Linked DNA regions of Homo sapiens. The protein of the gene in region 4 interacts with the protein of the main gene of each other region in a pairwise test. Each region holds a gene or a part of one and is shown on either strand. Other genes may lie near its edges.

Evidence for each region.
Region 1: the proteins of NFKBIB (region 4) and GIT2 interact in a two-hybrid assay, tested with the Homo sapiens proteins (one large-scale study listed by BioGRID and IntAct).
Region 2: the proteins of NFKBIB (region 4) and ZBTB7A interact in a two-hybrid assay, tested with the Homo sapiens proteins (one study listed by BioGRID).
Region 3: the proteins of NFKBIB (region 4) and TSPAN1 interact in a two-hybrid assay, tested with the Homo sapiens proteins (one large-scale study listed by BioGRID and IntAct).

Annotation. Positions count from the first base shown.
Region 1 is NC_000012.12:109,947,829-109,951,394, reverse strand, and holds part of GIT2 (ARF GTPase-activating protein GIT2), read left to right. Parts: intron 1-78; coding exon 79-228; intron 229-2,548; coding exon of another isoform or gene 2,549-2,572; exon of another isoform or gene 2,573-3,566. UniProt on the Homo sapiens protein: GTPase-activating protein for ADP ribosylation factor family members, including ARF1.
Region 2 is NC_000019.10:4,049,874-4,053,439, forward strand, and holds part of ZBTB7A (zinc finger and BTB domain-containing protein 7A), read right to left. Parts: intron 1-3,566. UniProt on the Homo sapiens protein: Transcription factor that represses the transcription of a wide range of genes involved in cell proliferation and differentiation.
Region 3 is NC_000001.11:46,173,767-46,177,952, reverse strand, and holds the start of TSPAN1 (tetraspanin-1), read right to left. Parts: upstream 2,867-4,186; 5' UTR 2,544-2,866; intron 2,468-2,543; exon of another isoform or gene 2,368-2,467; coding exon of another isoform or gene 2,324-2,367; intron 2,225-2,323; exon of another isoform or gene 2,106-2,224; intron 1,726-2,105; coding exon of another isoform or gene 1,482-1,725; exon of another isoform or gene 1,465-1,481; intron 295-1,464; exon of another isoform or gene 132-294; intron 1-131. Other genes in the region: P3R3URF protein, read left to right, coding at 1,482-1,725, 2,324-2,367; P3R3URF-PIK3R3 (LOC110117498-PIK3R3 readthrough), read left to right, coding at 1,482-1,725. UniProt on the Homo sapiens protein: Structural component of specialized membrane microdomains known as tetraspanin-enriched microdomains (TERMs), which act as platforms for receptor clustering and signaling.
Region 4 is NC_000019.10:38,906,160-38,909,436, reverse strand, and holds the end of NFKBIB (NF-kappa-B inhibitor beta), read right to left. Parts: intron 2,217-3,277; coding exon 2,128-2,216; intron 2,039-2,127; coding exon 1,778-2,038; coding exon of another isoform or gene 1,730-1,777; exon of another isoform or gene 707-1,729; coding exon 605-706; 3' UTR 548-604; downstream 1-547. UniProt on the Homo sapiens protein: Inhibits NF-kappa-B by complexing with and trapping it in the cytoplasm.

The DNA.
Region 1 (3,566 bases), on a different chromosome or scaffold from region 4:
AATTTGAAATTCTTGAGCTGTTAGTCTTTAATGTTCTCGTCATCTCAGATTGTGAACGTTTTCCCAATTTATTTTTAGAGCCTAGATTCAGATTTATCAGATGGACCAGTCACTGTACAGGAATTTATGGAGGTCAAAAACGCTCTAGTGGCTTCTGAGGCCAAGATACAGCAGCTAATGAAGGTGAATAACAACTTGAGTGACGAGCTGAGAATTATGCAGAAAAAGGTAACATGTTAATAAATGCCAGGACGGTTGACGCTTTAATCCCATAGTACAAGGAAGAATCTCAGGCACTGTGATGTGGTCCGAGGAAAGAAAAACAGTTATTGTAACAGCCTTAGAAATCTTTGGGCCAAGTTGTCTTTTTGAAGCAGGATGTATTTGGATATTTAAAATGAAATATATCCAGAGTAAGTTCCCCAGGTAGGAGAAACCTAACATCTATTTAAGCATTTGTGCCCATTAGAATAACCCTTGGACTATTCTGTGCTTCCTGGAAACCTGGATGGGGCTCCATGGATGTGATTCTTCCCATTGCTAGGGAAGGATGATCACACCATGGAGACAGAGCCAATGAGAGCCCTGGGCAGGGGCATGTTTATCAGCATTCAAACCCTGCTCCCACCCTGGCAGCCCTATCCCACATCCCCACCTTATTGCTCACCAGTTTTTACTACTAACTTGTATTATCCCCAGAGCCTACAGGAGGGCCTGCCACAGAGTAGGTGCTCAAAAAATAAGAAAAAACATTTCATTTGTACTAGGAAGAGCTGCACACTGGTAAAAAACAATCTCATTTGCTCAGCATTTTCTCATTCATTACCTTTTGAGAGAATCAGAACCGTGTGAATATATTAATCCCTAAAAGGAGTGTGGTTGATGGTAGCAAGGAATACCCTTAGTAGGAGGGGGATTGTGTATGCAACTCCTTATGAGATGGCTAAATAAGGGAATTCGAAAAATTGCAAATTTTGCCCATGACTTTGTGGGTATCACTCATCATTCAGCTCTAAAATGAGATTTGGACACTTTACTTAACCAGAAACAAAATGAAATATATAATCTATGTCTTTAGGCTGTCATTTGAGAAGTAAGGTTTTCAAATCATTTTCAAGACCTGAGGACGTGGCACACTCCATGTGTGCCTGGACTCTTTTCAGTGCTGCTTCCTAAAGGAAGGTGGAAGAACTAAAAAGGGGCCCATGCCCCTCTGTTTACTAGGGAAGGAAATTGCTGTGCACTTTTGCCTGGGGTTTGGTCTAGGATTCTTTTGATGTTGACTTCTAGAGCATTTTTGAGACTTTTTGAAATAAATGGCTCTAATGCCTATAGTAGCAGGGAATGAAGAATGCTTAAGATCAGCTAGCCTTAAACGAACAGACACTTGTTCTGTGTCTCCCAGCCCTGTCTAGGGCTGCCGTGCAGCTGTAAACGAGACAGACCGAGAGCCCCTTTGTCATAACATACAGGACCTGTATTTTCTTTGCCTTCTTTGGAATATATTTTATTTAGTGGATTATAGTTTGTTCCATTAATTGGACTAATAATTTTGACCAGGTGACTATTTCTGAAACATGCTGATTTTGCCACTGTAAATCAATCTGCTGCACATCACCTTTTAAAATCTAACAATGCTTCTTTTAGTATTTTTGGAAATCACCAGAGAGAGCCTCATTATCTCTGAAAGCAAATGTCTTGAGCTTCTTTGAGAAATGCAAAGTGAAATTATTTGCTTTTGCTTATTGATTATCTCATCAATTCTTAGAAGTGCTTTTGATTTCTGAAACTATTGAATTGTCTATAACTTTTTATTTTCCCTTATACTCCTTCCAAATAAAAAAGTGTAGCCTGGTTCTTATTAAGATAAACGTCATTAAAATTTATGTGAAGACATCTCTCTAAATACAGAGTACTAACATTTTTAAAAATTGAAACCAAGAACTTGTGCTCATGAGAACACATTCAGACAAAATCCAGGCATGAAAAGTGTTAGGATAAAGTTTCAGATTTCAAGGCCTTAACTAAATAACTGCCACAGAGGCTTTTTATACAGACAAACACGTGATCACATGCACCAGTGCCCCATTGAGGGACCTGTGTCAGTTACACACCTCAGTCCTTGAACCTTGACCATTTCACTCTAGGCCCTGGGTTCTCTAATGAATAGTTTCAACAGGCACTTCATGCCTGTCTGTATCCTGGAATGTAGAAATGTTCAGGGCTGCTTTGTCAGCTGCTTTGCAGCTGTTCTTTCCCTGGAAAGGGAATTGCAGATATGAGCTATACCCTGCCAGCCTTTGTGATATAAAAGCATTCTATCATTCTGTAATGGCTTGCTCTTCAGAGAAACAGAATGAGTGGTCTTTTTGTGGAAGAGGCAGTAAGTCACACTTTCACAGCAGTTTGGCATGATTAATATAAAGTATATGGAATTTGTTTATTTAGCAAAGATGTATTGATTATATTTCAAAGTTGGGTAAAGTTTTTAATATACATAAAGTTGACAAAGTAGCATGATTTGTATCTGATCTTTCACATTTAACAGTTGCTTGGAAAAGATGCTAATTAATGAAGAGGAGCAACTACTATTGGTGTATTTTTCACAGATTGGTGCTTTCTAAATAAAAATTGAAAGTAACTCCTAACATTGAATGGGTTTGCTACTGAAAAAGTAATGATCTTCTGGTGCAAACAGTTGCTTGTGGACTTAAACCTTGGCACTGGTGGGGAATTTGGTCAGATTTTACAATCTCTGTCAAAGAGTAGACAGCTGAACTCACACCACACCCAGCTTATAGAATGTCCATGGAAGATGAAGGCGCACCAGAAGGGAAGGACCCTGCGCAGAATGGACGTGGTGAATGGTGTTTAAAATGCCAGATGCCAAAGAGTAACACGATTCCCTGCTGACCCCTTAACTCTAATCCATCCAGCACCATGGAGCAGCCTGCATGTGAGGAATGGAAGGAGCATTCAGGGCCTCCAAGTGACAGTCTCTAAAATGGGGTGGTGCCAGGCAGATTAGCATGTTCAAAGCTGACACCACTGAGGTCGTGTTTTTTGGGTGACAAAGCCAAAGGAGAGAAAGGCCAAATATTCCAGCCCTGGCCGAAAGATGATCACTCACCAGACGGAAGCAAGCGTGCTGCGTGGAGCATCCATGCGAAGATGTCAATTCCATAGATCAATAGGTTTCCAGTTTTCTTCGTGATATGTTAATATAGCAAACTTACCATGATCCGGTTTTCTCTTTTTTCTTTTTTTTTTTACAAAGTGCTGAATTGTTTGGAATATCAAGAGTATTATGTAATAAAAACTTGTTGATCATAATTTTTCTTGTTGGCTTTTTGGAAAGCAATAGGCGATCTGATTTTTCACAAGCTGAACTTCTGTCTTTCTTGCTTTGCAAAGCAACCCTAGTCATCTTTGTGCTGCTTCCATGGTGTCTGCTGTCATTTTTGGCCTTTACAAATTGCTCAGGGCTCATTTGAAAAGCAAGTTACCTAAATGATGTTTTAATGATCTCGAACTCTTGCTTGAAACAGCCTTAGTAATAATCCAGT
Region 2 (3,566 bases), about 35 Mb from region 4:
CCTCCTTCCCCAGCCCTGTCTCCATCCTCCTGTCATCACCACCTGACTCTTCTATTGTTTTTTTTTCTGAGACCGAGTCTCGCTCTATCTTCCAGGCTTGAGCGCAGTGGTGTGGTCTCCGCTCACTGCAACTTCCGTCTCCCGGGTTCAAGCAATTCTTCTGCCTCAGCCTCCCAAGTAGCTGGGATTACAGGCCCTCTGCCACCACACCTGGCTCATTTTTGTATTTTTAGTAGAGACGGGGTTTCACCATGTTGGCCGGGCTGGTCTCGGACTCCTGACCTCAGGTGATCCACCCGCCTCGGCCTCCCCAAACGCTGGGATTACAGGCGTGCGCCACCACACCTGGCTGATTTTTGTATTTTTAATGGAGACAGGGTTTTCACCATGTTGGCTGGGCTGGTCTTGAACTCCTGACCTCAAGTGATCCGCCTGCCTCGGCCTCCCAAAGTGCTGGGATTACAGGCGTGAGCCACCGCGCCCGGCCGGTCTCTCTTGTTTCTGTTGATTTCCTTGTTTCTCCTCTGTCTCCCTGATTGGATTGTGAGCCCCGAGAAGGCAGGGGTTGGGTGTGACTTGAGGGCCCCTCCCTGCCTGTCTCGCCCCATGGGGGCAGCGTGGACCCAGCTTAGCCTGGAGCCTCTAGCCTACAAAGCCGGTCACCATATCAGTGGGGTGCCTGTGGCCTAGGTGGCTCCTGAACCCTTGGAATGTGGCCACTCTGAACTGATGTGCGCTGGAAGTGCAAAAGGTACCCCAGCTTTTGAAGACTTGATATGCAAAAGGTGATGTAAAATGGCTCAATGAGGATCGTGCACATTGACTACACATGGAAATGCATCTACTGGGTTAGGTAAAATGTTTCAAGTCACTTTCACCAACTCTCTTTGACTTTTTTTGAACGGGGCTGTCAGAAAATGTAAAAATATGTAAGTGGCTTGCTGGCCGGGCATGGTGGCTCACACCTGTAACCCCAGCGCTTTGGGAGGCTAAGGCGGGCAGATCACCTGAGGTCAGGAGTTCGAGACCAGCCTGGCCAACGTGGTGAAACCCCGTCTCTACTAAAAATACAAAAATTAGCCGGCATGGTGGTGGGCGCCTATAATCCCAGCTACTTGGGAAGCTGAGGCAGGAGAATCGCTTGAACCTGGGAGGTGGAGGTTGCAGTGAGCTGAGATCGTGCCACTGCACTCCAGCCTGGGCGACAGAGCAAGACTCGTCTCAAAAAAAAAAAAAAAAAAAAAAAAAAAAGTAGGTGTCTTGCCTATTCCCATTGAGTGATGCCAATCTATAGTAATAAAGTGTACTCCTTCCTGGGATCCGGAGGGCAGGAGGGAGCCCTGGGTCTCAAGAGCCCTGGCTAGAACCTGACCTACTCCTTGCTGCTGCCTGTTGTGCCCCACATCTGAGCCACCTCGGGTTTCTTCCTTCTCACACTCAATAGACTGAAGACTTCTTTAGTGTGGGGACTGGCAAACTCCTACTCATCCCTCAAAGCCCTACCTTGAATGCCCCTCTACCTTTCCTAATTCCCAAAGACCTGGCTCCCCTCTGGGTTCCTCCAGCCCTAAGTCCCTCCCTCTGGCACCAGCTACAGAGCTGGTGTCCCTAACTTTAACCCCTCCTTGGCTCTGTTGCCCTGAGGGTCAAGGCCTGGCCCTTGGCAACCAGACCCCTACCTTATCTCTAGCCTTGCTGCCCCACTGAAGCCAACAGAACGTGGTAACTTGCTAACAGAACCCTGGCCTAACCAGGTCTGTTACCAGCCTCCAGGCCTCTGGTTTACTGATCACCTTCTGCAAAGCCCACGGCAAGGTCTCCGGGCTGCCTTGCCCAGATCTGGCACAGGGCCGGGGTCACAGAGGGGATGGCAGCCACTAGGTTTTTCTAGAACCGTGCAGAGACTCCCCAGATGAGCCTGGGAGGCCCAGAGAGAGGAAGGGACTTGCCTGGAGCTGCACAGCAGGCCAGAGGGCCACGCAGAGGCGGGGTGGGGGCGGAGGTATCCCTAGTTTCATCACCCCGAGCCCCAGCCTGGGTAATTATAGCCCCGGCCACCACAGGCCCCACTTACTCAACGCCCTGCTGTGACTCAGAGGGGCCTCGGGCTCCCAGGCTTTTGGAGGGTGGAGGTGCTGGTGTCCTGGGGAGGGGGGACCAGAGCACGGGGTGGGGGAAAAGAGGAAGCAGGTGGGTCTAAATTGGGGTGGGAGGAAGAGGTCTCCACAATTGTCCCTCTCTAAGCCTCAGTTTCTCTGACTGAGGGGATCAGCCCCGGGTCGGGTGGGATAGCCAGCAGTGCCCGAGTCAGAATGAAACCGGGCCTGTGGCCTGCGGCCAGGGAGGCAGGGTGGGGGTCACCACCTTCGCTCAGCCTGGTCCCCTCTGCAGACCCCAGTTCTCTGCACCCCACCAAGCTGCTCTTCCTGAGCTCAGAGACGAACCCACAGTGACCCCTGCCTGGAGGAAGAGGAGCCCCCCAAGACCTCCAGTACCCCAACCTCACCAAGGAGGGACAAACCACCAGCTACACTGCCTGCCTCCCAAAGTGCCCTTTGCCCCCTGCCTGGCACTCCTGGGCGCCGGAGTCCAGGCCGCACCTTCCTCTCCTGGCCTGCTGGGGAGGGGGCCGGGGTGCTGGGGAGGGGTCAGTCCCAGTTCCTGTCCCCACGGGGTGGGGTTGGGAAGCTGGGACAATGGCCTCTTTCTTCAGCCTCGGTGGGCGTGGCTGGGGGAACCCCAGGGCGGGCGGGGGGCAGGGGGTGGTGCTGAGTCACCCAGCCTGGCCAGGTCCCTGCCTGCCAGCCCCCTGCCCCCACCGCTACAGCCCGCCCCGGATCTACGAGGCCCAGCCAGCCACCTCTGGACTCCTGAGACCGAATTGCAAACTGCCCGGGCCTGGCCTTGAACTCCTGCTGTTTAGGGACCAAGTCCTGTGGCTCCCAGGGGGGCACAGTGATCTCTCAAGCTGAGCTGGCCTCAGGGCCTCTGCACTGGCTGTTCCCTCTGCCTGGAACGCCCTTTCCCACAGCTGCTCCTCCCCTCCTTCAGGTTCCGGCAAGGCCTGTCCCCGGCGCCTAGAACAGGCCTGGCACCAGCAGACGCTTCATAAATGTTGGCTGATTGAAGCAAATGACCCAGGCTCACGGGAAACTCAGAAGCCGCTCCACGGCCTGGGCTGTCCCTCCCTAAGCCTGAGGGCCTGTCACCCTCTCCCAAAGCAGAAAAAGAAAAAAATCCAAAAGTGCAGAAGAGAAGAACCAGCCCTCCAGGAAGGAAGAACGACTGTGCCTTCCCGCCCACCTCCCGCAGCTCAACCCTGTCCGGCACGCTTTGCATATGATGTGGCTGTCATCTTATGTCTGGCCTGTGCTGTCACCCACCGGGATGTCCACCCACAAGGGCAGGGCCTGGTCTAGGCTGTTCTTAACAGCCACGTGGGTCAGGGAAGCGTTCGTTGGCTTTGGGCCCAAGAGGTGGGGTGTGTCTGTTTGCGTGTGTGTGCATATATGTGTGTCTGTGGGTGCATGTTTGCATGCATGTGCATGTATGTGTGCGCATGTACG
Region 3 (4,186 bases), on a different chromosome or scaffold from region 4:
GTTAAGTGCTCTGGGTTTTGGATCTTGATCATCATGGATTTGCTTCCTGCCTGCCTCTAATTGTGTGACTTCACCTCACTGAGCCCCAGTTTCCTTATACAGTGGATCCTCCTTATTCACAGATTCCATACCTGTGAATTTGCCTGCTTACTGAAATTTATTTGTAATTCCCAAACCAGTACTTGTGGTACTTTTGCAGTCATTCATGGACATGAGCAGAAAGGCAAAAAATTTCAGCCGTCCAACACACGTATTTCCAGCTGAGGTCTGTTGAGCAAGAGGACTCTCTGTCTTCTTATTTCAGTTTTCATAGAGTAAACAAATGTGCTTTTTGGTGGTCTATTTAGTGACGCATATTCTCACATTTTTTGGTGTTTTTTGCTGGTGATTTTACTGTCTAAAATGGTCCCCAGTTGTAGTGCTGAAGTGCTCTCTAGTCTTTCTAAGTGCAAGAAGGCTGTGATGTGCCTTATAGGGGAAATATGTGCTTTAGATAAGTTTCATTCAGGCACAAGTTATAATGCTGTTGGCTGTGAGTTCAATGTCAATGACTCAAATATAGATAGATAGTTAGATAGATAGATAGATAGATAGATAGATATATTTTTTTTTTTTTTGAGACAGAGTTTCACTCTTGTTGCCCAGGCTGGAGTGCAATGGTGCAATCTGGGCTCACTGCAATCTCCACCTCCTGGGTTCAAGCTATTCTCCTGTCTCAGCCTCCTGAGTAGCTGGGACTACAGGCACCCACCACCACACCCAGCTAATTTTTGTATTTTTAGTAGAGATGGGGTTTTGCCATGTTAACCAGGCTAGTCTTGAACTCCTGACCTCAGGTGATCTGCCCACCTCGGCCTCCCAAAGTGCTGGGATTACAGGCTTGAGCCACCATGCCTGGCCAACAATATATATTAAATAAGGTGTCTCCACACATAAAATCAGGTTATATGTATAGATCAGTTGACAAAAATATTGTGACCAGAGGGTTTCAGGAACCTAACCTTGCATTTACCCTTTGTTCAGTATTTAGTGTTTGTGGCGACTTTATAGAACATTACTGGGAATAATGAGAATTGACTGTATATAAATAGGTATAATGATGGCATATCCTTGTAAAGTAGCTGAGATTAAATGAGATAACGTTGGTAAAGTGCTCAGCACAGTGTCTGGCACGTAGTAAGTGCTCAAAAAACATTGTTAATATTGTTACTATATGGATAAGTGAGAAAGTGAGGAAGTGAGTTCCGCCTCTAGGGCCTCTTTTCCCAAGGGGCCAAACTGAGGCTGTCTGGCTCTTGGGCTGGCTTTTAGGCCAGACCCAATAAAGAAGATTGTGAAGGAGCCTGACCCATGAGGAGGGGCCAGGGCCCACGACTTGTAATAAAGGGCCCTGCCCTTATGCAGACTTTGTATGTCATAGAGGCCTCAGCTACCCTGGCCAACAGCACCCCCCAGGCACACTGCAGAAGCTCCCTGTGCCCATGGGGCCATCTCGGCTTGTCCGTGGCCCTCGGCCCCAGGGCATGCGTTCCCCCTACCGCAGGCCAGGTATGGGCTGGCCCAGGCCCCGATTTCCCAGGATGTTCAAGTGTAGCCGCAGAAGATATCAACAGGGTCTCCGAGGTCGAACTGCCAGCAGTGCAGCCATCAATCCTGCCACCAGGGCCATGGGTATCAACAACACCCACACTGACACCACCATAGTGTGGATCTTCCCACCTCAAGGTTAGCCAGGGGGCCTGTGAGCCAGGGTGGGGTTTTAAAAAACAGAGCCACTAGGCTGGGTGCGGTGGCTCATGCCTGTAATCCCGGCACTTTGGGAGGCCAAGGCGGGCAGATCACAAGGTCAGGAGATCGAGACCATCCTGGCTAACACGGTGAAATCCCATCTCTACTAAAAATACAAAAAAAAATTAGCCGGGCGTGGTGGCACACGCCTTTAGTCCCAGCTACTTGGGAGGCTGAGGCAGGAGAATTGCTTGAACCCGGGAGGCAGAGGTTGCAGTGAGCCAAGATCGCGCCACTGCACTCCAGCCTGGGTGACAGAGCTAGACTCTGTCTCAAGAAAAAAAAAAAAAAACCAGAGCCAGTGAAGATTTCCCTACCTGGTTCTGTTTAGGCACGCCAAAGGATGATCTCTGTGAAATAGCACCCCTACATATATGGGGGACTCCTGATGGCAGGCACCCCAAAGTGCTGACAGCCTTAATGGAGGATGGATTGGCTGGAAGCAGAGGGTTTGGGGAGGGGCTGAATCCAAGAGGCAGGGAACTTCCAGAACTGCTTCCTTCCTCAAACTCTTCCCTCTCCTTCCTCTCCTCAGTTCTCAGACATCTCAGGCAACCTGGGATTTTTCTGATCCTCTAGAAGTGCCCAGAAGCTAGCCCAGAAGCTTGGTTTGCCCTGGACCTGCATCTCCTAGGGGCCGTGTGGGTGGTGAACAACAAATACAGTCATTCTGCTCAAACTGCCTTATTCCACACAGAGGTGTTAACCAGCTGACTATGCAGGGCGTGAGGGGAGGGTTATGGCTGAATACTTACAGGGAAAGGCTTCAGTGACCGCAGCAGGGATCATAGTTTAAGACAGCAGGAGGACAGGACAAGGTCAGCAACATAGACCATCTTTGGTCTCAGCTCTTGATCTGCCCCATGAAGTAGGGGCTCTCTTGCCTTACACTCCTAACTGCACAGGGAGAAGGGTCTCTGTAAACATCTTGGAAGGTATTGGGAGGCACAGATCAGAGAGGGATAGGATGAAAGACTGAACCCTGAGAGTACACAAGTATGAGGTGGATGTGAGGTGGATGTGCCTCTGTGTGCCTGTGATGGTCAGCGTGTAGGTGTAGCTGCTGGTGTGTGTGTCTGAGGCCGGGAGAATAGGAGTATCAGTAGATGTGGCTGAATGTGCCTTTGTGATTTAATGTGCCTCTGTGACTGACTGTGAGTGTCAAGGAGCGTTTGTGAGGGTATGGGTGTGCCGGAGAGGACATCAGCCCTGGTAAGAAAAGTGAAGGTCAGGAGGGGGATGGGGAACAGCCTAAAGGAGGAGAACATGGAGAAGGGTGAGATTCTGAGAAAGGCATACTACCTTCGGCCCTTCAACCATTCTCTGAGGTCAGTGTTTTCCAGAACTGGCAGCTGAGCTGGGGTGCTTAGGGGTGGGGCAAGACTGAGTTTGAGCCCAGAAAGTAGGGAGGGTGCTAAGCTCTCTGGCCTGGGGATTTTCCATTTGGATTTCTGAGTGTGTGCTCATGTGTCACTGGCTGTAACCGGGTTTCTGTGGGGTTGTGTCTTAGTCGCTGGGAACATTTTGTAGGACTCTGTCTCGAATATGTTGCATCATGCATGGGCTAATACGTGTTGCACCGGTCCGAGATCTGGCTGCATTTCCAGGCTACCTTCCCAAGGGGCTAGGGAAGGGAGTGAACCCTGAGACCTTTGGTGGCCTGGCCCCCTGGGGTTCAGGAAGTGTGGCTAATGTCCTTTGCTGCCTGTGAAGGGAAAGTGAATTGTGCTTATGTCTATCTACCCCAACTCTTGCCAGAGACTGGGACCCTGAGGGGGGTTGAGGCAGAGAATTCACTGACACACCATGCCCAGACGGTGCTGGGCTCCTCAGGTTATGGGATGGGGGTTGCTGAACATCAGTCAAAGCTAGAAGGTGCTTGGGCCATGCTCAAGGGCCCAAGAGGGGCCATACATATAAAGATACATGACACAGTTCACAAACACATGCAGACATGTAAATATAAGTGAACTCATAGACACATACTGCAACAACCACACACATGCATGCAAGCACATACTATAAGCAGATATACGCAGACACAAATGCATAGATCCCCACACGATATATGTAACAACACATACGCATGCCTCTAAATGAACACAGACAGAAACATGCATGCACCCAGACACAAGCACACAAGCACCCAGATGCAGACACATGCCTTCACACTCATGCAAACCCAGGCACACACAGACATACACGCATGCAGACACACTCACCAGACTTCCCTGCCCCTGCGGCCCTGGGACCCAGAAGCCTCCCTCCCCTATATGAGTGTGTAGTATGTGTGTGTGCATGCACTCATGCCCACACTTGTGTCTGTGTGTATCTGTGTCTGTGAGAGTGTGTGTTTGTGCTCGAGTGTGTGTATGATGGGGGTGCTAAGCTGTGGGAA
Region 4 (3,277 bases):
ACGACCGCTGCTGGATGCCACTATGAGAACCGACATGGCCCACAATCACAGTGACCGAGGTGGCCTGCCTTTGAAGGTGGGTGCTGACTACCCCGTTTCTGACCCCACCAGGAAAAGGAGGTGGAGCAGCTGGAGCACTTGAGAGACGAACTGAAGAAGGTGACAGAGACGCTGGGGGAGCAGCTCAGGAGGGAGGGCTGACCCCTACCTCAGTCCCTCCTTCCTCCTGACACACCCTGTGGCTTAGGACTGTTGACCCCGAAGCCTCCACCTCACCTAGCACCCCACGCCACCCCTACCCAAACAGGGGAGGAGGCGGACGTGCCTTGGAACCACACCCAAGGAGGTGAGTCTGAGCTGGGCCGGGGGCTGGGCTCAGCCCTGACACAGGAAGCACCCCCACACCTATGCACTCCCACTCCAACCCTTCTGAGTGAATAAAGCACAAAGAAACGCACCCTGCCTCCGTGAGCAGCACTTGATGTGACAGGGATGGGCCCCAGAAGGACCCGGAGGACTGGGAAGACAAGATCAGTCTGGTCTCTGGTTGTCAGAACTAGGGTTTTGTTTATTAAACTGGAAATTATATTAACAATGAAACAAATCACACGGGGCGGGGGTCGTCAGGAAGAGGTTTTGAGGCTGGGGTGGGAGGCAGCCGGGTTTGGCTGCGGCTGCTGTGAACCACAATGTCGTCGTATTCATCCTGGGGGCAAAGGGGACCAGGCAGAGGGGCTCAGGCGGCTGTCACTTTGCCCACCACCCATGTCCTCATAGAGCACCCTAAGAATTAGGTCTCGCCTCAAAGCCCAAGTTCCCCTGCTCCTGGCTCAACCTCCCAGTTTCCTAGCTCTCAGAACTCCATTTTCTTTTCTTTCTTTTTTTTTTTTTTTTTTTTAAGATGGAGTCTCGCTCTGTTGCCCAGGCTGGAATGCAGTGGCGTGATCTAGGTTCACTGCAACCTCCACCTCCCAGGTTCAAGCAATTCTCCTACCTCAGCCTCCCAAGTAGCTGGGATTATAGGCATGCGCCACCACGCCCAGCTAATTTTTGTATTTTTAGTAGAGACAGGGTCTTGCCATGTTGGCCAGGCTGGTCTCGAACTCCTGACCTCGTGATCTGCCTGCCTCGGCCTCCCAAAGTGCTGGGATTACAGGCGTGAGCCACCGCACCTGGCCAGAACTCCATTTTCAAGGTCATTTCTACAGACCAATTTCTAGCCAGCCGCCACTCCAGAGTTTCGGCAACTGAGCTGGCCCTCCTCCACCCCTTCCCTCTGCCTTTACCCAAATTCCTCCGCACCCATCATCCAGCACCGCGCCTTGCCCAAGGACGGATCTGTATTGCTGGGTTCTCTGACTATATCTCTCCCCACCGCTGGCTCGGGTCCTGCCCCAGCACTGCCGGTGTTCAAATCACTGCCACCCAAGGTTTTCTTTTCGCAGTGTGAGTTCTCCAATTCTTGCTGCCTAAAATCACCCCCAGCGCTACCACCCACCCCCGCTGTGTTCACCAATCACTGCGACCAACGCCTTTTCTCCACCCCTGCCTGAGTTCTACCTTTGCCACTGCCTTAGTTTTTCAGCCACTTCTGCCCAAGCTCTTCCCACCACCCCTGTCCAGGTCTCTCCTGACTAGTGCCCCGTGTCACTGGCGCTGCTGCCTGAGTTCTCTAACAGCAGCCCAAGGTCGGTGCCTAATTATCTTCTTGGGCTTCTTGCCTGCCGGTCTATCCTGACCCCCCAGCTGGGCTGCCCTGTCTCTCCTCCTGACTCACGCCCTCGTCTCCGCTGTCGCTGTCGCTACTGCTGCTGCAGGGGCCGGATTTCTCGTCCTCGCCCTCGGGCTCAGGGGCTCCGTGTGCACGGAGGAGGCGGGCGAGGATGGGGTTGGGCCGGAGCATGGCACTGCCGAGTGGGGTGCGGCCACCGTACATGCGGGCAGCAGGGTTCGCGCCTGCCCTCAGGAGAAGCTCCAGCACATCGGCTGCCTGGGCCTCCACTGCCAAATGAAGGGGGCTCCGGCCGCACGTGGGCTCCTGTGGGGGTGCAACAGAAAGGTCAGAGGGCCCGAAGAGGGGACAAGCCCCCTCCCGCCGACGGCATCTTCCCCGAGGTTGGGGCTCACCGGTTTGTCAAGGTCAGCTCCAGCATCTCGGAGCAGCCGGACCATCTCCACATCTTTGTGGATAACGGCCACGTGGAGTGGGGTGTGGCCTGGGGACAGAGTGATTGGCGTCAGATGATGAGGTGAGGGCCCCCCCCACCCCACCGTGCTTTGATCCTGGGGGAGGGTCATGTGGCGTGAGGGTGATTAGGTTTGGGGGCTGGTTCCTGAATTCTTGGGTATGGCAAAGAGGTACCTGGGTACCAAATGCCTATCTCAGATGGCCTGAGCTTGCTGGCAAGTGCTAGTGCCTGAGTTGTTTGAAGCCTGGGGCCCGCGGGTAAACAGCCTGGGGTCTGTGGACAGGGAGCCTGGATTTTGGGGCCAGGAGGAGACCCAAGTCTCTGCTCTTATCACTCAAAGGACCTGAGCTGGCACGCTATTTCACACCTGTAATCCCAGCACTTTGGGAGGCCAAAGCAAGAGGATCACTTGAGCTCAGGAGTTCAAGAAGCTGCCTGGGCAACATGGCAAGACGTCTCTACTAAAAATAAAAAATAAAGGCCAGGCACAGTGGCTCACGCCTGTAATCCCAGCACTTTGGGAGGCTGAGGCGGGTGGATCACGAGGTCAGGAGATCGAGACCATCCTGGCTAACATGGTGAAACCCCATCTCTACTAAAAATACAAAAAATTAGCTGGGCATGGTGGCGGGCGCCTGTAGTCCCAGCTACTCGGGAGGCTGAGGCAGGAGAATGGTGTGAACCCAGGAGGCGGAGCTTGCAGTGAGCTGAGATGGCGCCACTGCACTCCAGCCTGGGCAACAGAGTGAGACTCCATGTCAAAAAAAAAAAAAAAAAAAAACCTTAAATTAAGGTTCCTGCCCAGGCACGGTGGCTCACACCTGTAATCCCAGCACTTTGGGAGGCCATGGCGGGCAGATCACCTAAGGCCAGGCCAGGAGTTCAAGACCAGCCTGGTCAACATGGTAAAACCCCGTCTCTACTAAAAATACAAAAATAAGCTGGGCATGGTAGCATGTGCCTGTAATCCCTGTAATCCCAGCTACTCGGGAGGCTGAGGCAGGAGAATCACCTGAACCTGGGAGGTGGAGGTTGCAGTGAGCCAAGATCACGCCACTGAACTCCAACCTGGCAACAGAGTGAGACTG